3 linked regions of the Homo sapiens genome follow. The protein of the gene in region 1 purifies or fractionates together with the protein of each later gene. This does not show direct contact. Each region holds a gene or a part of one and is shown on either strand. Other genes may lie near its edges.

What was found.
Region 2: the proteins of LTO1 (region 1) and ABCE1 purify together in Homo sapiens (affinity purification with mass spectrometry; 4 studies listed by BioGRID and IntAct, with this or other methods). This does not show direct contact.
Region 3: the proteins of LTO1 (region 1) and TGFBRAP1 purify together in Homo sapiens (co-immunoprecipitation; 2 studies listed by BioGRID and IntAct, with this or other methods). This does not show direct contact.

Annotation. Positions count from the first base shown.
Region 1 is NC_000011.10:69,672,295-69,679,294, forward strand, and holds the start of LTO1 (protein LTO1 homolog), read right to left. Parts: upstream 3,060-7,000; 5' UTR 2,946-3,059; coding exon 2,896-2,945; intron 1,028-2,895; coding exon 922-1,027; intron 1-921. UniProt on the Homo sapiens protein: The complex LTO1:YAE1 functions as a target specific adapter that probably recruits apo-ABCE1 to the cytosolic iron-sulfur protein assembly (CIA) complex machinery. May be required for biogenesis of the large ribosomal subunit and initiation of translation.
Region 2 is NC_000004.12:145,122,255-145,129,366, reverse strand, and holds part of ABCE1 (ATP-binding cassette sub-family E member 1), read right to left. Parts: intron 6,347-7,112; coding exon 6,236-6,346; intron 6,153-6,235; coding exon 6,010-6,152; intron 5,890-6,009; coding exon 5,767-5,889; intron 4,378-5,766; coding exon 4,266-4,377; intron 1,842-4,265; coding exon 1,794-1,841; 3' UTR 1-1,793. UniProt on the Homo sapiens protein: Nucleoside-triphosphatase (NTPase) involved in ribosome recycling by mediating ribosome disassembly. Able to hydrolyze ATP, GTP, UTP and CTP. Splits ribosomes into free 60S subunits and tRNA- and mRNA-bound 40S subunits.
Region 3 is NC_000002.12:105,319,716-105,326,827, forward strand, and holds part of TGFBRAP1 (transforming growth factor-beta receptor-associated protein 1), read right to left. Parts: intron 1-7,112. UniProt on the Homo sapiens protein: Plays a role in the TGF-beta/activin signaling pathway. It associates with inactive heteromeric TGF-beta and activin receptor complexes, mainly through the type II receptor, and is released upon activation of signaling.

The sequences.
Region 1 (7,000 bases):
CGGCTCTGGCTGACACCCTGAGCCAGGACCACCCAGCAAAGCTGCTCCTGAGTTCCCAACCCTCAGAAACATGTGAGATCATCCATATTTGCTGTGTTAAGCCCATGAATTTTGTGGTGATCTGTTTCACAGCATCGAACATCCAATATAGTCATAACTGCCTCAACTCAGACTTTGCCACTAAGGGCCACTTATCTGTAAGGGCCAATCTAGGACAAAGGGCAAGAAGAGAAAAAAAAAAATCATAAAGTTAATGAAATTTCAACGTAAACATAAATGGAATATGTTCACATGACAGAGGGCACCCATTCTTTGGCTTAGTACATGAGCCAGCACCATGACACTCCCAAGTAAACTAAGGAGACCAGGGACTTGTTTTCTTTTATCCAGCATGCATAATTTAATTGTATCTACCTACAGCAAAATGCACTCTTGGTTCTGTACTAAGAATATTTCTCCAGCAACAGTCCATCTAGTCCATTAACTCCCATGCAAAGGCACTGTGATTTTTTTTGTTTATTTTTTGGAGATGGAGTTTCATCCTGTCGCCCAGGCTGCAGTGCAATGGCACGGTCCCGGCTTACCACAACCTCTGCCTCCCAGGTTCAAGCGAGTCTCATACCTCAGCCTCCCAAGTGGCTGGGATTACAGGCATGCACCACCATGCCCAGCTAATTCAGTATTTTTAGTAGAGACAGGGTTTCACCATGTTGGTCAGGCTGGTCTCCAACTCCTGACCTCAAGGCGATCCACCCACCTCAGACTCCCAAAGTGCTGGGATTACAGGTGTGAGTCACCGCGCCCATCCGGCACTGTGATTTTAAAAGGCCTGACAATTCTTACTCCATCACACTGAATATCGAAATAAATTATAAATTGTAAATGAAGAGGCTTCATCTCCAGATGGGGGTTCCCACTTACCTCAGACCCGATTTTGGCTCCATGCAGCGTGCCATGCTGCCTTCCCTCCATCACACCCAAACTACTGCCTTCTTCATAGCCTTCCCGATACCCTTCCCCATGAAACCTGTGAAGAAGAAGCATGCTTCATCAAATCAACAGGAGAAAGAATACTTTCTCCAGAAAAACTTCTCTCTCTTGTATTACCCGGACCCAGTAAGACAAACCAGAGTAAAGGAGGAAAAGCCTAAAATTCAAGTCAGAAGACACAGATTCCAGTCCCAGATCTACCACTTCCTATTTGCCTCTGGAAGTCACTGTACCTCTTGTAGCCCAGTTTCTTCATCTACAACAAAGGGCTAAATTAGGGATTCCCAAACCTGATAGGGTACTAGAAACACACAAGGAAAATTCAAAGATATTAACTCAAAAGCCTCACCCCCAGAGATTCAGTACGTCTGGAGCAAGGCCCTGGAATCTACTTTTCTTTCTTCCTTTTTTTTTTTTTTTTTTTTGAGACAGGGTCTCTGTTGCCCTGCCTGGAGTGCAGTGGTATGATCACAGCTCACTATAGCCTCAAACTCCTGGGCTCAAGCGATCCTCCAGCTTTGGCCGCTCCAAGTGTTGGGATTACAAGTGAGGGCCACCGCACCTGGCCTGCAATCCACTTTTCTTTTCTTGAGATGGAGTCTCGCTTTGTCGCCCAGGCTGGAGTGCAGTGGTGCGATCTCGGCTCACTGCAAGCTCTGCTTCCCGGGTTCACGCTCTCCTGCCTCAGCCTCCCAAGTAGCTGAGACTACAGGCGCCCACCACCACATCCGGCTAATTTTTTGTATTTTTAGTAGAGACGGGGTTTCACCATGTTAGCTAGGATGGTCTGGATCTCCTGACCTCGTGATCCGCCCGCCTCGGCCTCCCAAAGTGCTGGGATTACAGGCGTCAGCCACCGCATCTGGCCCGGAATCTACTTTTCAAAGTCTCCTAGATAAGTCTGGTTTGCAGCCAGAGTTAGGGGGCCAAAGTTCTGTGAGTGTTCAAGTAGCACTAGCCCAAGTCAACCGCTTCCAAAAAACTGCAACATACACAGGGTTTGACATCACATGGGTAGGGCAACAGAGAGAAATGGCATCAGATCACCACAAAATGTTCTCCGACTGGTACCCGGAGTAGCACTGACCCTGAGGCCCAACAGTGGAACTGCCACTATCTTAACCTGCAGTCACCAAACATGCAAGGAGTGGGCTGCAGCGCCCCATGAAGCAGGGTGCATAGCTCCCCACTTAATAGTTGTGTGACCCTGGAAAGTGACTGTGCCTCCTAGTCTGTAAATTCCGAAGAATAATAGGATCCACTTACTAAGTAGGGCTGAAGTAGATAACCAGGGTGGAACGTTTAGCTCAGTGTCTGACTCACAGCGCGAGCTAAATAAACGTCAGCGCCTGACTGCTAAATGTTCGGCCGCTTTCTTAACTAACATCTATGGACGCGTCCTCTGGGCCGGGCACTGGAAGTCAGCCAGGAGGCAACTCACAGCTCCCCCACTGTCGCAGCACGAGGGGCTCCCCAGGGGCTCTGGAGGGAAAAGGGGTGTGGTCGGGTACATCTATCAGCACATCCATGAATACTGCCGTATGTCCTATGATTAAGGAACCAGAAAAAAAGGCAGCTCCCAGATGGCAAAGGTCTGTCCTCCCAGAGGACGAGGCGGCCTCGGAGGAGGGGAACCACCAGGCTGAGCAGATGTTTGGGGCAGCCCTGACAGGGAAGGCGGGTCTGGAAGAGCAGCTGGGCACGTGCCCCGCCGGAGCGGGCCAGGAGAAGAGGACCAGAGCATCAGGCCCACACTTGTCCCTGCGTCCACGGCCACCAGGCGCTCCCCAATGCGCACGCCCAAGGGACGCCAGGCTCCAGCAGCCGCCCTGGGCCGCAGCCGGCGGCGAAGCCGCTGGGAGACGACCAGACAGGGCGGGGTGCGGGCCCGGCCTCACCACCCACCTCTCATCCGCCATCACGATGGCATCGAATATGTCCTGACTGCCAGCCATAGCGGCAAGCAGCCCGCCCTTGGCCCCCGGGTTTCTGCAGCCCCGCGGTGCCGTAGCAGACCCGGCAGCTTCAGGCACAAATGCTCCGCTTGGGAGGAGACGAGACCCACTTCCGGAAGCGGCGGCGCGGGGCAGGCCGGGTAAGAACGGCACGCGGGAGGGCCCAAAGCAGCCTGTACATGGCGCATGCGCGGCTGCAGCGGTGGGCGGGGCCGGCCTCGACTGAAGCCCCGCCCTGGGGTCCTTTCGCCCTGCCCAGCTCCAGCAAAGGGCCTGTCTGTCCGCGCTGGGAGCGTCCATTGGCCGCGCGCGTGGAGAGCCGACCTGTATTTTACCACTGCAGATAGAACCGAATTTCCCAAAGTGGCTCCGAAAGAACCAAGGAAGAAATGGGAAGTCATCAGCTGGCGCGGTGGCTCACGCCTGTCATCCCAGCACTTTGGGAGGCCGAGGCGCGCGGATCACCTGAGTTCGGGAGTTCGAGACCAGCCTGGCCAACATGGTGAAACCTCGTCTTTACTGAAAATACAAAAATTAGCCGGGCATGGTGGCAGGCGCCTGTAATCCCAGCTACTCGGGAGGCTGAGGCAGGAGAATCACTGGAAGCTGGGAGGCGGAGGTTGCAGTGAGCCGAGATCGCACCACTGCACTCCAGACTGGCGACAGAGCCAGACTCCGTCAAAAAAAAAAAAAAAAAGGGAAAAGAAATGGGAAGTCATCAAAGAACCGACGCCTCAGGAGGCTCCAGGCCAGGAGGCTCTGCATGTGGGATTTTGGGCAGAAATTTGTCGGTTTTAGTTCTCATATTTGTCATTTCCATGAGATGTGCTTTCTGAACACGATTTTTAAAAAGGGATTTCAAAGTCTAAGCGACAACGGAACTCAGATGAGAAACACCAGAAGCATTCCTAATAAAGTCAGTAGTAAAACCTCACGTGACCACTGAACATCTTTCTACCAGCCCTGGCCAATGCAGTAAAACATGAAGCAAGAAGTGGAAATACCAAAAAAAAAAAAAAAAAAAAAAAAAGGCAGAAATACTACTATTTGCAGATATGATGGCCCACGTGGAAAACCCAAATAGTCACCTAAGACGTTCTCAGAATCCATAATCGCAGCAAGTAGCTATGTGTATGATGAATAGGGAAAAAAACACTTTCTGTTATTCCAACAATAATTGGTAGTAACCTGAGCAGGGGTGGTGATGGGAAAATCGCCTTATGATAGTCATAATACATTTCTTAGAAATAAGAATTTCTAACAATTTGAGCAGGACCCATATAAGGAAAACTACAGCTCTACCATGATTGAGGATTGGGGAACTGAACAAGTGCAGTACCAAAGAAAATTCCATGAGATCTGGTAAAATGTGTCAAAATCCTAAACTTTTTCATCCGTATGAATAAACTAATAAAAATAACTAAGATGTTTTAGAAAAAAATGATTTTCATATCAGATATGAAAAGATAAAGTGTCAATATAAATATTGTGGTATGTTGGTTCAAGAAGTGGCAGACCAGTGAAATAAAGTAAATGGCCCAGACAATGGACTCTCATAGATGTAAAGCCTTCTCATGTGGTAAAAAGAAGAATTACAAATTAATTGGAGAAAGGAAATATTAACTAATAACTATAATGGAAAATTGGTTGTTTGGGAAAAGCTTGGTTCCATTTATGCCTCACACCATTCATCAAAATAATTCCAGATGAGTTAAAGAGTTAACTTAAAAAAATTAAGCACATTGGCTGGGCACGGTGGCTCACGCCTGTAATCCCAGCACTTTGGGAGGCCCAGGCAGGTGGATAACCAGAGTTAGGGAGTTCGAGACCAGCCTGACCAACATGGAGAAACCCCGTCTGTACTAAAACTACAAAATTAGCCTGGCGTGGTGGTGCATGCCTGTAAGCCCAGCTACTCGGGAGGCTGAGGCAGGAGAACCCAGGAGACAGAGGTTGCAGTGAGCCGAGATCACACCATTGCACCCCAGCCTGGGCAACAAGAGCAAAACTCCATCTCTAAATAAATAAATGAATAAAGCACATTTTGCCTGTAATCCCAGCACTTTGGGAGGCCGAGGCGGGCGGATCATGAGGTCAGGAGATCGAGACCATCCTGGCTAACATGGTGAAACCCCGTCTCTACCAAAAAATACAAAAAAAAAAAATTAGTGGGGCATGGTGACGTGTACCTGTAGTCCCAGCTACTTGGGAGGCTGAGGCAGGAGAATGGCATGAACCTGGGAAGTGGAGCTTGCAATGAGCCGAGATCGCGCTACTCTACTCCAGCCTGGGTGACAGAGCGAGACTCTATCTCAAAAAAAATAAAATAAAATAAAAATAAATAAATAAATAAATAAAATAAAGTACATTAAAAAATCTAGGTGGAACATTCAGACAAGTATGAAGATGCTCTTTTAACACATAAAAGCCATGAAGGAATTCTCAGCAAGCAAAACCAACATTTTACCATGTAAAAATGCAAACTTGTGTGTACCAAAAGTGATAAGAAACAAAATTTAAAGTTAAAGAACAATATGGGGAAATATTTGTCATAAATATTGTAACTAAAGAAATAATAATTCTGGTAAAGAGTTTATTTAAATACATGTATTTATTTAAATAAATACATCCTAACGGGGAAAAAAAAGGACTTGAAACATTATTCACAGAAAGAGCAACAGCTGGCCAATCAGGAAAAGCAGACGCAGCCTCACTAGTAACCAAAGCAATGCTGAGAAAGAATAATGAGATGCATTTTTTATCTTTTAAAATAGCTTAAGTTCTTTTTCTCCTTTTTTAGAATTAAAAGATACTCTTAATGAGCACAAGTGCATACATTGAAGACACCTCTTGGTCAGGCAGTTCAAAAACATAGGAAGGGCATTATATATATATATATTTTGTTTGTTTGTTTGTTTGTTTGTTTGTTTGTTTTTACTAGCTAGGCGTGGTGGGTCACGCCTGTAATCCCAGCACTTTGGGAAGTCAAGGTGGGTGGATCACCTGAGGTCACCAGTTCCAGATCAGCCTGGCCAAACAGTGAAACTTCGTCTCTACTAAAAACAAAAATTAGCCGGGTGTGGTGGCACGCTCCTGTAGTCCCAGCTATTCTAGAGGCTGAGGCAGGAGAATTGCTTGAACCTGGGAGGTGGAGGTTGCAGTGAGCCGAGATTGTGCCACTGCACTCCAGACTGGGCGACAGAATGAGACTCTGCCTCAAAAATAGAATAAAAAAGTTTTTTTTTGCCCCTGGACCTAGTCATTTCACTTCTAAGACTTCATCTCTAGGAAATAATCAAAGACAAGTCAAAATATTATGTACAGTGTTGTTCAGTGCAACACGATTTGTAAAAGGCAAGGCAAGGAAAGCAGCTACATTGACAAAATGGTGGAATTATGACATGTATTGTAGGCTATTCATGTTGAAGACTCCTAAGCAACCATTACAAATAATATTTCAACAAAAGTAACATCATGGAAAATGCCCATGATATTTCAAGAAAAAGAAAAAAAAATCCTCTATGTGAGGCTGCAGTGAGCTATGACCATACCACTCCACTGCAGCCAGGCCAGGGCAACAGAGTGAAATCTCATCTCAAAAACATAAAAAGAAAGAAAAAGAAAAAGAAAAAAAAACACTCTACATATACTCGAATTGCAATCACACTAAACACTATTTCAAAAGAATGAGAGTAGCCAGGTGAGGTGACTCACACGTATAATCCAACACTTTGGGAGGCCAAGGTGGAAAGATTGCTTGAACCCAGAGTTCAAGACCAAGCTAGGTAACATAGTGAGACTTCATCTCTACAAAAAAATAGAAAAAATTAGCCAGGCACGGTAGTGTGCTCCTGTAGTCCCAGCTACTTGGGAGGCTAAGGCGAGAGGATTGCTTGTTCTCAGGAAATTGAGGCTGCAGTAAACCGTGATCGTGCCACTGCACTCCAGCCTGGGCAACAGAACGAGACCCTATCTCAAACAAAACAAACAAACAAACAAACAAACAAAAAACCAGAAAAGAAAAAAGGAAGAGAAAAAAGAGTGAAAGCAAGTAC
Region 2 (7,112 bases), on another chromosome or scaffold:
ATTTTATACTGATTTTATAAGTATTTTTCTTGTGTTAGCAATTGTAGGCCTTTCTGTTGCTATGTAAAATTTTAAGATACATATTTTAAAGATTTCATTTACATGAAAATACGTTTAATACATATTCTGTCATTAGCAGTAAGTAGAACTGTGCTCTTATATCACAAGTACTTTCTTTAAGACAATCCAGGATCAGTAAATAACAATAGCTTTTGCTTATTTTATTCAATATATTTGAAATGATCATTCACAAATTTAACCTATCCTTAAAAATAGGCATTACTTATTTTAGTATAATCCCATTTGTATACAAAACAAACCCTTTACATATTCACACTTAGGTAAGTGCACAGAAAAAAGCATGAAAGAATATACATTATTAAATTCAAACGCTGGTAACCTTTGGGAGGGTAATAAAGGGAGATCATTTTTTTATTCCATTCTGTATATTTGAATTTTTTACAACATGTATTTATGGGTTACTGAAATTATTTTTAAAAGGCATAATAGGGTCCAGTTAAACCATACTTTCTAGCCATTATTTGCATATTAATCAAGACTTCTGTTATTTCAAGTAGCTCTTAAAGTTTGTCAAACAGTTTCTAATTTCCTCCTCAATTTTGCTTGCCCCAGTCATTTATTTAGTAAACACTCTTCCTCACTCATAATTCCAGTTTAGTCAGAAGTACAACTTAAAGTGGCTCCAGGCTCCAGGTAATCCTGTTCAAAATTCAGGAACTCAAGAAATTTAGATGGGTTTTTGGAACTACAAAATGGTTTAGATAATGTGCTCTATATCCAAACTCACAAATGAATATATGTGGTACCAGGGGATACTTTGTATTGCCATCTGGGGACTTTTGCATTAATGTTGCCTTTAGGGAAGTGGTTTATAATCCTTGGCTGCCCAACAGAAAAATCTGTGGAACTTAAAAAAAATACATAGATGCTTAGGCACCATCTTTAAAGATTTCGAGTCTGTAGTTCTAAGGGAAGCAAATATTCTTTAGAAATGCTTTTTCCTAAATCTCAATCAGTGATTATATAAATATATGTGTACAAAAATGACATTACCTAGAGAATGACTGAATACAGAACCTCATGGAATGCAAAAACAAAAAAAGTTCAGAGTAAAGTTAGGGGTTTTTTGCGGGGAATGGAACTGAATTGGTTTTTGCTAAACATGTTTAAAAGCACCAAAAAAGATTAAAAACAATTTAAAAATACCTATTTTTCCAACAGTGGTGTTTTGCAGTAGATAATCTTCCTCGGAAACCATATACTGGTAATATAGTGCAAAGACTGAAAACAAACAATAAACATAATCCTGATGTTTATTTATCAAATGTCAATCAGTGGAATCTTTGACTGGCTTTTAAAATAAGGGCAGTTTCATTACACTGGCATACTTGGCAAACCAGGTAAGTACAGAAACCCTTTTCAAGATTTAAAAAATGGAGCAACACTGGTCAGCATTTGGTACCGTGAATATAATACACCTACTGAAAATCTTCCCATACATCATGAAAACTTGGAAGTAATTTGTATAGCTTGAAATGTCTTCATTTTAGAATATTATGCACAAAAGAGCCTCTTCAGGAACAGAAAAGTGGCATTTTCTGTGTTTCAACTACAATTTAGAACCCAACTGGCTTTTTATGTTATATTAAGTATATTATACTTCAAGTTCCAGAGTATGTGGGGCATAAAATCCTGATTCAAGTTTTATATGACAAAAAATTCTAGTAAATACTCCTTTTAATAAATGGCTTATCAATATTCTCAGAGTCAGTCTAATCATCCAAGAAAAAGTAGTTTCCACTCTTCTTTTGTTCTACATCCTAAAAAAGAAAACAGAAGCCACAAAAATCAGCAACACGATTCTACTATAGGTAAAAGTAGACTTTCACTCATGGTATTACTTAGCTGTGCTTAAAACAGTGCCTGTACAACCTGTTCTGCACATACCATCTGTTTCTGGATATTCCTGGGTCCACTGCTCAAAGGAAAGATAACTACCTCTGCCCCATCCCTAATGCTAGAATGACTCACTTGCACCAACTCAAGTAAAGTCCCTTTATATAAGATGCCTCACATATATAAAATTTTGCTATGTGTTATTATTTCTAGGAAAACTATTAAATTCCATTTTCATCAATGCAACTTTTATCTCCAGATTCAAAATGCAGCATACTGTCAGTTTGAGATCTGCCTACTACACAAAATATATATATATAAAGTTTTTTCCAATACTGGCCAGTAACAATCTCACCTACCTACTTGTTGAGCTGTTCTCTTATTAGGATTAAGGTATGACAATCTTAAGATGAGTAGGCATACAGAAATGATAACTCATGGTGACTGAACCATAAGTCTGTCTAAGAAAATGACAATACAAAGTGTCCTTAATGCTTCCAAAGAAATTCTTCTTTTCTACCCAATATGCTTTTCAAAACTGAGAAAACTCTTCAATTTTATGTGAGAACTTAACCATTTCTCTATCCTGGCCAAGAAGTAATATCAATCAGAAAAAAGGCATCCAGACATACTGTTAGGTGCTTAAGAATACAATGACGTGCAAGATAACTTTGCCTCTGGCATTCCAAGAGCTCATGGTTTAGCAGCAAAGCTAGGACTACAAATATGAAAATAAATGCTACAGCAGAAGTATGTATAACATACTTCTAAAGCTTTTAAGCATTAAGGATGATGGATACAGAGTGATAAAATGTAAACACTTTGAGGCACTGCAGATATTAAAAACAGAAATGATGGCCAGCATGGTGGCTCACGCCTGTAATCCCAGCACTTTGGGAGGCCAAGGCAGGTGGAACACTAGGTCAGGAGTTCAAGACTAGCACGGGCAAGATGGTGAAACCCCATCTCTATCAAAAAAATACAGAAAATTAGTCGGGTGTGGTGGTGGGCACCTGTAATCCCAGCTACTCGGGAGGCTGAGGCAGAGAATTGCTTGAACTCGGGAGGCAGAGGTTGTAGTGAGCCGAGATCACGCCACTGCACTCCAGCCTAGGTGAGAGAGTGAGACTCTGCCTCAAAAAAACAAACAACTAAAACCAAAACCAAAAAAACAACCCAGAAATGCTTTTAGAGTTCATTTACTTTCTGTTTCTGAGTGACTAAGATTTTTGCCTTTTAAGAAACAAATACTGTATTTCACAGAGGAAATCAACTGTAGGGTGCACAACTGTGAACTACAAAGACAAAAAACATTGTCAATTAAGTAGACACAATGTTTTCCTCATCACAGGAGCTTGTTTAGACTTTCAAAATATACTTTTTTTGCGGGGGTTGCGGGGGCGGGGGCAGGGACAGAGACTCGCTCTGTTGCCCAGGCTGGAGTACAGTGGAACGATCTCAGCTCACTGCAACCTCCACCTCCTGGGTTGAAGTGATTCTCCTGCCTCAGCCTCCCGAGTAGCTGGGATTACAGGCGCATGCCACCACGCCTGGCTAATTTTTTGTATTTTTAGTAGAGATGGGTTTTCACCGTTAGACAGGATGGTCTCGATCTCCTTGGCTTCCCAAAGTTCTGGGATTACAGGCATAAACCACTGCGCTTGGCCTAAAATACACCTTTTAATCATGTATTGAAAAATATAACAGAAATTGGTTAAGGTATTCTTAAAAAATTCTTTGTTACAATGGTGAATTAGTGTAATCTTTCCCCAGACATTTTAAGTGGTAATCAATATAGGTAGTACAACTGTGATACAACTTAAAGAGAAAACAGGAAGAGCTCTTGAGTTCACACAGCAATGACAGCTACATTACAATTGCTGCCTACCGCACACTAAAGTATGCCATCAGGTCTTAAAATGTAAAAAACATAGGAATTTTAAAATAAAATATGGTTGTTTTTTAATTTATTTTTATTTTTTTAGACAGAGTCTCACTCTTTTGCCCAGGCTGGAGTACAGTGGGATGATCTCAGCTCACTACAACCTCCACCTTCCAGGTTCAAGTGATTCTCCTGCCTCAGACTCCTAAGTAGCTGGGATTACAGATACCTGCCACCAGACTCGGCTAATTTTTGCATTTTTAGTAGAGATGGGGTTGCACCATGTTGGCCAGGCTGGTCTCAAACTCGTGACCTCAAGTGATCTGCCTGCCTTGGCCTCCCAAAAGTGCTTGAATCACAGGTGTGAGCCACTGTGCCCAGCCATATGTTATTGATTTTTAAATAGCCTTTCAAGTGTTTATACTGAGATCAGTAATCCATGATTTAAGACAACTTTTCTACATACCTTAATTGAATTAAGTTTGTTTATTCGTGGCCTATAGTTGTTTGGATCTCTTCTGAATGTAATTTCAAGCTGAGACAAAAATTTATTCATGCCAGCCAAAAGGGTTTGAGGACTAAGAGAAAAAAAAAAATCAATTTTGATTAAATTTTACTTCAGAAATGTAACTACCTTTTGAGAGGAAGGGTATTAAGAATTACTATTACCTCAAATTCCCCAATCATAAATCATCTGGATAACAGTATAATAACAGCATATTACAAATCCTGTGTTCAGAAATAGCTTTGCTTGGACTATATAGTTTTCTTGGCTGTAATATTTTTGTGCAAAACAAAAAAAAAATTTAACCTGGATTTCTAATCTGGTGAAAGAAACATTTAAGATAGAAGTACTACTTTAGAAAAACAGAAGATAATTAATAAGTAGATTACAGAATCTCCAATTGCACATTTTTAGGGGGGATGAGAATCTTAAAAAGTTATATTTATATGAAAAATTTGTTACTGGAGGGAATATGTCCTCCTAATAGTGGTTTTCAGTGACAATTCCTTTCTAAATTTCTATGCTTAATCGTTTTTACCCAAGTGAGTTCTTAAATCATGCCAAATCACAACATACATGTGAAACATTTTAAAATTTTGTAAATAGAAAGGTGGGATATCACTAGATGAACAAATAAACATCACATATGCTAAGAAATTTCCCTAGCTCTTTAAGAAATATGTAATTCTCAATTTATAAAAAAAAAAAAGGAATTCAGGGAAGAAGCCCAGCAAAATACTTTTATTTCTTAGATGAATTATTAAAATGGCAACTCCATTCCTTGCTCTCCAATACCAGAAAACATGCTGAAACCACATGAAACTGCTGGTTTTATAGGTGAAAACTGAACACCAGTAATTTCATTTAGTTCAATCTAATAATATAGGCTTTAGCACTAAAGGTAAAATGAATTTCTCATAACTTGATCTGAATGTTAGGCTTCTCTATATTGCAAGTGCTCTTAATCAGGCTAACAAGGAAAAATGAGAAGAAAAAACGAAAAAAGTAAAACCATTTATTTTAACTCTGCTATAGATTAATACCAGATATTTGGGATCCACTGTGAGCTCAATCACTGTCAGCATAAGTTGGACAAATCATGTAACCTCTTTAATCTTGTTTTCTTTTTCTATCATGTATGAAAGCAATAGTTTTCAATCTTTTTTGGGAAATTCAAATAATAAAGCAAACAAAAGTTAAGCTGAGAAAAGGTGAGGGGCCCACAGCTTTTTATGCTGTGGCCTACAGCTTTTTATCTTCCTGGTGAGGGATTCCACACTGAAGCCTAAACACTACTCTTCCACATGGTCCCATCCAGTCCCCAATACCAATGATCTCAGGAGTCACAGAATCAAGTCTAGAATTTCTAGCTTTCATTTTTTAAAAATTAAAGTGAGTGACTTTACTATTTACTGGAAAATTTAAAATGAATTACTTTGAACATATTAAAAAGTAATTTTACCTGTTTGCAACTGTGTTCTTAGATGGAACACCATCAAAAACGATGACGCGATCCGCTAGATAGGTGGCCATGATGAAGTCATGTTCCACAACAAAGGCTGTCTTTTTTGCATGGAGTATGAAACTAAAACACAATGATTTTGAAATCTTATAGCTTTCTATCATAAAACATTCGACTGTTATATTAAGCACACTTGTAGGACAGTATACATAATCAAAATATGGCTAGGAGCAAGATATTTACCGTTTGACAACTCGAGCTGCCATCAGTCTTTGCTCAGAATCCAAATATGCAGATGGTTCATCAATTAAATAGACATCAGCAGGTTTGCCCAAGCAAAGGGCTAAAGCTACTCGCTGTAGTTCACCACCAGATAATGTCTGCACCTAATTGGAGGAGTTTAGCAAACCATGTAAAGGCATCCAAAATTCAAAATAATAAAAAAATAAAAAAAATTATGTTAAAGTACCTCTTGATCAATGATGTTTTCAATTTGCAGAGGCTTCATTACATCGGTCACAAATTGTGGGTGAGTATAAGCATCTCTTATCTTTTCATGTAGTAACTGGCGAACACTTCCCTGTTTTTAATATAAAAAAGTATTTAAATGATAAACTTTCACTATAGAACTCTTCTATTTATGAATCTTGACAAAGTTAAGCTTCAGAATAAAAGTATATCAATTTGCCACCAACAGATATCAATGTGTATCCACCATCTATGACATGTTTTGAGATTTTCTATTCAAAACCCATCATGTCCAACAAGTAAAAAGGAATTTTTTTTTTTCTTTTGAGACAGGGTCTTGCTCCATTGCCCAGGTGTGCAATGGCATGATCAGGGCTCACTGCAGCATCAACCTCCCAAGCTCAAGCGATCCTCCCACTTCAGCCTCTAGAGGAGCTGGAACTACAGGCATGCACCACCATGCTGAACCAATTTTTAAGTTTTTGTGGAGGCGGAATCTGTTGGTCAGGCTGGTCTTAAACTCTTGGGTTCAAGTGACCCTCCTGCCTCAGCCTCCCAAAGTGCTGGGATTACATGCGTGAGCTACCATGCCCAGCCTGCAACAATCTTTTTTTTTTTTCCACTCCACAGCCCCTGCAATAATTTTAAAATTAGAAAGTAATAAGCAAATAATGAATGTTTCAGAGGAAAAATCATTTAAGAGTAGAAATTCCAAAGGTCAAAGTGGGTATCAAGCAACCTTAGGCAATCAGTAAGAGAACACAAAATGCATGATAATGTGCTAGGGATGAATCCTAAGATGGCTTTTCCTTGCTGTTTCAGGATAAGGCTGAATTTTAGAATTTAAAGCTAAGCTTATAGAGAGCATCAATGACAAA
Region 3 (7,112 bases), on another chromosome or scaffold:
AAAAGAGGCTTGTAACTCCAACATTAACTATATAAATATTAGCATAATACATATATAAGATTTTAATATATATGTTTAACATATATAGGTATATATGTGTTTAATGCATATATACATATATGTATGTGTGTATATATTTGTTATATAGTGAAATATATATTTGTTATATATTGAAATATATATATTTGTTATATACATACATACATACATGTTATATACACACATACATACACACACACACACAATAGGAAACTCCTAATCTGGTACAGAGATAAATATATTCTGCCAAAAAGAATGCTATGACAAACTGGCATTTATTAAAATGGGCTCTTTACCAGTAATTATTCTTGAATCAAAGAATGACACTTTGTTATCTGCTCTACCAAATAATGTCCACCTGAGAGCCAACTTTAAGCTTGGCCTGGTGTCCTACGTGTCTGCAAAAAACCCTCACATTTTCTAATTACTTCACAGCTTATAAATGAAACAGACTCTTCAGAAACCTATGCAGCTATATGTGCACCAGAACTTCATCACCCTGGGGGAGGAACCGCAAAAACTCAGCCCTATAATAGAAGGCACTGTCCTATGAATAAGCTAAAAATTAATTCTGTATCTGCATTTTAAAAAGGACACACTACCTCAAGTAAGATTTGTTATTTTCTCATTTTACAGCAAGAAGTTTTTTTTTTTTCTTTATGATAGTCCATCAAAAATGAATAGAGATCAAGTGGTCATTCTAACATTTGGACCAAAGCCAGGTCAGATCTGAAGGCAATGCAGAAAGGAGGCAGGAATGTGGGCCACACACCTGAAACACTAGGTCATTATCCTCCTTATAACATACCAGAAGGTAGTTCCCTGCCCAAAAGATAAACTCCAGACTCAGCTTAAGAAGCACAGCCCTTAAAATTTTAACCTCAGCCAACCTTTCCTCCTTTATTTAGTAAGAAAAATTATAGCTATTAACCTATTCTTATTGTTCCATAATATCAGTCTCTTATTGTATAAGCTACAATCAGTTCGGAATTGCTGCTGAGTTCCAAAGAGCCTGTAAGTGTCCAAGGCACTCCACAAACCAAGCAGTTGTCAAAAGGGATTTCAGTAAACACTACTCTCTAGATACCTTTCCAAAGGATTAACACTATGAGTCAGAAAATAGTTACCATTAACTACAGTGGTGGGATCGAATTTAACAACGTAATAATCCCTAAAGGAAAACACACTGCCTCCTTCTCATCTGTCGCTAGTCCATATGAAAAGTAGCAACGTCTGGTGGACAAGGGCAGCCTCAGAATGGGCTCTGGGGGACGGCACAGATTCCCACACACTGGACTTCCTCTGACTGGCTGATGGCAGGGATCCTGGCTTTAGGCGTGAGTATCTTTCTTTCTTTGCATCTTCCTACAATTTACAGTTTTTGTATAAATACAATGACTTATTTATTTATTTATTTTTTTTTTTTTTGAGATGGAGTCTCTTGCTTTGTTGCCCAGGCTGCAGTGCAGTGGCACGGTCTCGGCTCACTGCAACCTCTGCCTCCCAGGTTCAAGTGCTTCTCCTGTCTCAGCCTCCTGAGTAGCTGTGATTACAGGCAGCCGCCATCATGCCTGGCTAATTTTTTGTATTTTTAGTAAAGATGGGGTTTCACTGTGTTGGCCAGGCTGGTCTCGAACTCCTGACCTCAGGTGATCTGCCCACCTCGGCCTTCCAAAGTGCTGGGATTACAGGTGTGAGCCACCATGCCTGGCCTACAATGATGTTTTTCAAGTTTCTATTTTGCCATTTTAATATAGAACTTTTATAGAAAAAAAAATGTTTCTCTGAGAAGCAGTTTCTCAATTAACCTGGATAAACATATCTACTAAGACCATGAAGCCATAGACAGATAGCAATGTCCATCACAGGGGAAAACTGAACACAGTGGCGTGCTGTATAATGACATTTCCATTAACAACAGACAGCATCTACAACAGTGGTCCCATAAGGTTATAATGGAGTTGAACAATTCCTATCACCTAGTGACAATCTAACTGTTGGAACATTGTAGCAAAATGCATCACTCATGTGTGGTGTTGCTGGCGTACACTAACCTACTGCAGTGCCAGTCGTTGAAAAGTCTAGCACATTCAATTACATACAGTATGTAGTACTTGATATAATAATAAATGACTATGTTACTGGTTTATGTATTTACTCCACTACACTTTTTATCATTATTTTAGAGCGTACACCTACTTATGCAGGAAAAAATAAGTTAATTGTAAAACAGTCCTTCAGGAGGACTCCAGAAGAAGAAATTGTTATCACAGACAACAGCTCCACACATGTTACTGCCCCCGAAGACCTTCCAGTGGGACAAGATGTGGAGGTGGATGACAGGGATAAGGATGATCCTGACCCTGTGCAGGCCAAGGCTAATGTGTGTGTGTTTGTGTCTTCATTTTTAACCAAAAAGTTTAAAGAAAAAAAAAGAAAGAAAAAACTTATAGAATAAGCATATAAAGAAAATATTTTTGTACAGCTATACAACATGTTTTCAGCTACATGTTATTACAAAGAGTGAAAAACTTTTAAAGAAGTTTATAAAGTCAAAAAGTTACAGTAAGCTCATTTATTACTGAAGAGAAGTATTTTTAGAATAAATTTAGTGTAGCCTAAGTGTACAATATTTACAAAGTCTATGGTACTGTACAGTAATGTTTTAGGCCTTCACTTTCACTTGCCACTTACTCACTGACTCACCCAGAGAAACTTCCAGTCCTGCGAGCTCCATTCACAGTAAGTGCCCCATACAGGTGGACCCTTTTTTTAGTATTTTATACAGTATTTCTACTATCCCTTTTCTGTGTTTAGATGTGTTCAGATACACACATACTTTGGTGTTACAAGATTCTCTTGTGCTTAGAGATTCAGGACAGTAGCATGCTGTATAGGTTTGCACCCTAGGAACAATAGGCCATACCCATATAGCTTAGGGTATGAAGCTATACAGGTGTATAATACACTGTACCATCCAGGTTTGTGTAATTCACTCTATGATGTTCATATGATGACAAAATTGCCCCATGGGAGATTTCTCAGACCATAACCTAGTCATTAACTGATGCATGACTGTATATCATATATTAGCTCTAAAAACCAAACCTATAAGTGAACTGACAAAAGTTGCCATAGATCCTAACAGCCTTTGAGACGGATGGGGGGCAGACAGAGCTTGGCACACTTCAGCCGTTCACAGCTCCCAATCAACCAGTCAGGATGCTGGTGCCATATAATTAGGAGAGAAAGCTAAATCACCGAGGACTCAGCCAAAAGCAAACCATGGTGGTGAGGAGGAAGGTGAAGGAAAAGGGTGGTATGCAACACAGTGGGACACCTTGCCTTATTCCCCATGTTTTTTGAGGCTGGTCCTGAGAAGTTTAAGAGAGAAAGACTCAGAAGCATGCATTGGAGGCCAGTTTTCTTGTGGTCCCAGTGATGGTGGCTCTTGTGACGCCTGGATGAGGAGGGAGAGCCTGGAAAAGTCAGGTGGTGACTTCAGTAGAGGGGGCGGGGGGATGTGCTGACACCCACCTCTGGCTTTGTCAGCTTCCTGAAACAGAAACAGCGTGGGCAGCTGCCAAGGGACCTGCTGCTCAGCCTCTATCTCTGCGACCCCTTGGGACTCAGTGCAAACTCAGACCTTCCTATCTCCCTTTGGCACAGGCACCAACCTCATGCCCATTCTTCCTCTCCTGACCATCATATCGTGGGTATTGAGCAGGACAGGCAGGTATGACTGGACACTTTTTTTTGCAGGCAGCAGGGAGTGAAGGCTTGAAAACCTCTATTTCCCATGCTGCATTCCTGACTGAATGAAGAGCCAAATCACAGCCTCAAAATTCTATATTGGGTGAGAAAAGGCAAACCTTGCCAGCAATATTCTCCCACTGCAAGCTACCTTCAGATGCAGTGTTTGTGCTAAATGAGTGAAATGAGATGTCAACAAAAGTCCCTACTAGAAAACAAACTGCCAAACACCTCCAATTCCCATGGGGGGTTTGATAGGCTCTCTGACAATCACTGAAGTCCCATCTGAAAAATGCATTTTGGTAGGTTTACGGGTTGACTTAAAGTCTTGAGATACTGATGTGGTTTTCTTAAATGTGTTGTTTCTATAGATTGTGAAGGTGATTGTCAGAGAGCATCTCGAATCCCCCATGGGAATTGGAGGAGTTTAGATAAATCCAAACTGAGGGATGGTCTACAAAATCTCTCACACCCTTTCAAGTGTGTTAAGGTCACGAAAAAAGAGGAAAGGCTGAGGAACTGTCACAGATTAGAAGCCAAGAATAAGTGACAATTAAATGCAAAGTGGGGAAACTGGATCAGAAAAAGGATCCTGGAACAGAAAAAAGACATTAAGCAGAAAAACGGGTGAAATTCAAATACTGTGTGCACTTTATAGTGGTATACTAGCACTAATTGATTCATTTTGATCATTATACTACAGCCATACAAGACGTTAACAAAAGAGGAAGCTGGGTAAAGTGTATTCATGAATTCTGCACTATTTTGCAACTCTTAGGTAAGTCCAAAATTACTTCAAATTTTAAAATGAAAATGTAATCGTGGTATATTGGGTAATTATCTCACCTTAGAGTGATCAAGAAATAGAAAAGAAACCTGGGAATCTCCTTTTCTAGCAGGAAAGGAAACAGTCATAAGACTGTGTCAGTGACTAAAAAGGACAAGCATGAACCAATACCCATCAGTCCAGCCCAGGACTGCGCTAGCACACTCTGGGCTACTGGAGCCTTTTTTATTGAGCCACTTTTAGAGGTGATTTTTCTCCAGCCAAGTGTCCTCGCTTAAAATTACAAGCATGAATAATACCCATAAGTTAAAAGTTTTTTTTTCCTTCTGAAAATGCATTTCAGAGGAGAGTTTGGGAGTTTTACTCATTTGGAGTCTTTCCCCTGACAGAGGGGCTGAGATTGGGTTGGGGTGAATGTGAGCTGACTCCTGCTGTGTTCAGAATTGGATATACCATGAGCTTTGGGAGAAGCAGTTAAGTGGGGGACTCTGAGGGTGGACACTCAGGCTGGGAAGGAGCACAGCCCCTCAGTAATAAGGATCAAGGCCCCAGAGCGAAACTGGGCCACCCCGGCAGTGAACTGTGGTAAATGTGGGCACGCTGCATAGCAGACATTCCCGACATTAATCTGGGAATCCTGAGCTCTGCTTGTTGCTTGGTCACTTCCTGATGATCTTAGGCAACTCACTAAGAGGCTTTGTCTGGGCCTGTGTTCTCTATAAAACAGAAATTTGGACTGGGCTGTGTGCTTCTCCTATACCATTCTCCAGCTACTTCTGGATGAAGAGGAAGGGAATGGAGGTCTTGAAAGGTGGAAGAGTCATGCTGGTAAGTAGAGAGCTGGGATTCCAACCCAGGTAGTCAGCTCCAAAGCACACATCCTTAATCAGATGCCACACTGGCTCCCAAGGCCAATGCTGCCCCAAGCCTGGATGATGGATGGCACCCATAGGCTGCAGCCCTGGCTGACACCCTGACTGCCCCCTCAGGAGAGCCCCAAAACTGGGTTTGGTGGGATACTGCACACTCGATATAGCATTATCCTTTCGTTCTTACCTTGACGCTGAGAGGTGGACATTATTATGGAGATACAGAGATCTTAGGTGGCTTGCTCAAGGTTACCTGGCTACAAGGTGATGAAACAGGGCTTTGACCCTAGTTTTTGTTCGTGACTCCAAGGCCATATTCTTATTGATTGAGGGGAACAAGTATGATTTCAGATCCTCTCCTAGAATTCAGTTCTGAACAAAGCAACAACTCTCAGCAGGAGGCCACTATGGTACTTAGAGTGGCATGCTGCTGCAGTTCCTGAGGAGTCTTTGCTATTGCTTCCCCACCGTGAGTCTAGAAGAGGAATCCTGTGGCTCTATCTGCTTGCTGAAATTCAGACACAGAATAGTATGTTGACACAGTTCTCTACTAACATAGTAATCTACCAAAACAGGATACACATTTATGTGACAGCAACTGCTTTTCCTGAGCTGCACCCCATGCTGGTCCCGTGTTCTTCTCTAAGTCCCACAGCCATCTGTTGAATGACTCAATCTTGAAATTTGTCAGGAATCAACAATAAATTTACTGGCTTGTACAAAAGTCAACTTTTCCCCCCTTTGAAAATGAAGATACTGCTTGACAACCATTTTATGTTATCTTTTGCACTCATGCAACAGAGACAGCAAGATTAGTTATAGTGCAATGAACCTGCTCTGATAATCTGCAAGAGTATCTAAAAAAAGAGGATTAAAAAAAGACAGTTAAGGTCTAATATCTAACTTGTCATCTTAATATTATCATGATGTATATTTAATATATGTAACTATTCATAGTTGGTATCCTTTTTACTGGGCAATACTAATCAAAATTATTTAAATACATATAAACATATATTTATATACACACACATATATACACATACTATATATGGTGTGTGTATACATACATATGCATAAGGGTGTATGTGTGTGTGTATGTACATATATATAATATACATCCTATAAGAGTACCATCAGCAGTTAGAATTAAAAGGGTTTAGGAAGAGAAGTGGGAGGTAGAAGAAGAGCAGAATAGAAATATGGCATTTACTTCATAACATCTTCCTCAATACTGAACCTTCAAACAGCCACAAAAAATTATCGAGTACTGGCCAGGAGCAGTGGCTCATGCCTATAATCCCAGCACTTCGGGAGGCCGAGGCAGATGGATTGCTTGAGCTTAGGAGTTCAAAACCAACCTGGGCAACATGGTGAAACTCTGTCTCTATAGAAGAATACAAAAATTAGCCGGGCATGGTGGCATGTGCCTATAGCCCCAACTACTTGGGAGGCTAAAGTGGAAGGATCACTTGAGCCTGGAAGATGGAGGTTGCAGTGAGCCGAGAACACGACACTGTACTGTAGCCTGGGTGACAGGGTGAGACCCTGTCTCAAAAAAAGAAAAAAAAAATTATTGAGTACCTACAGGACTTGATAGTCCATAATATCCAGTCAGTTGTCATCTTTAAATATGTGATTTTTTCCTTAAATCTTTAACTTTT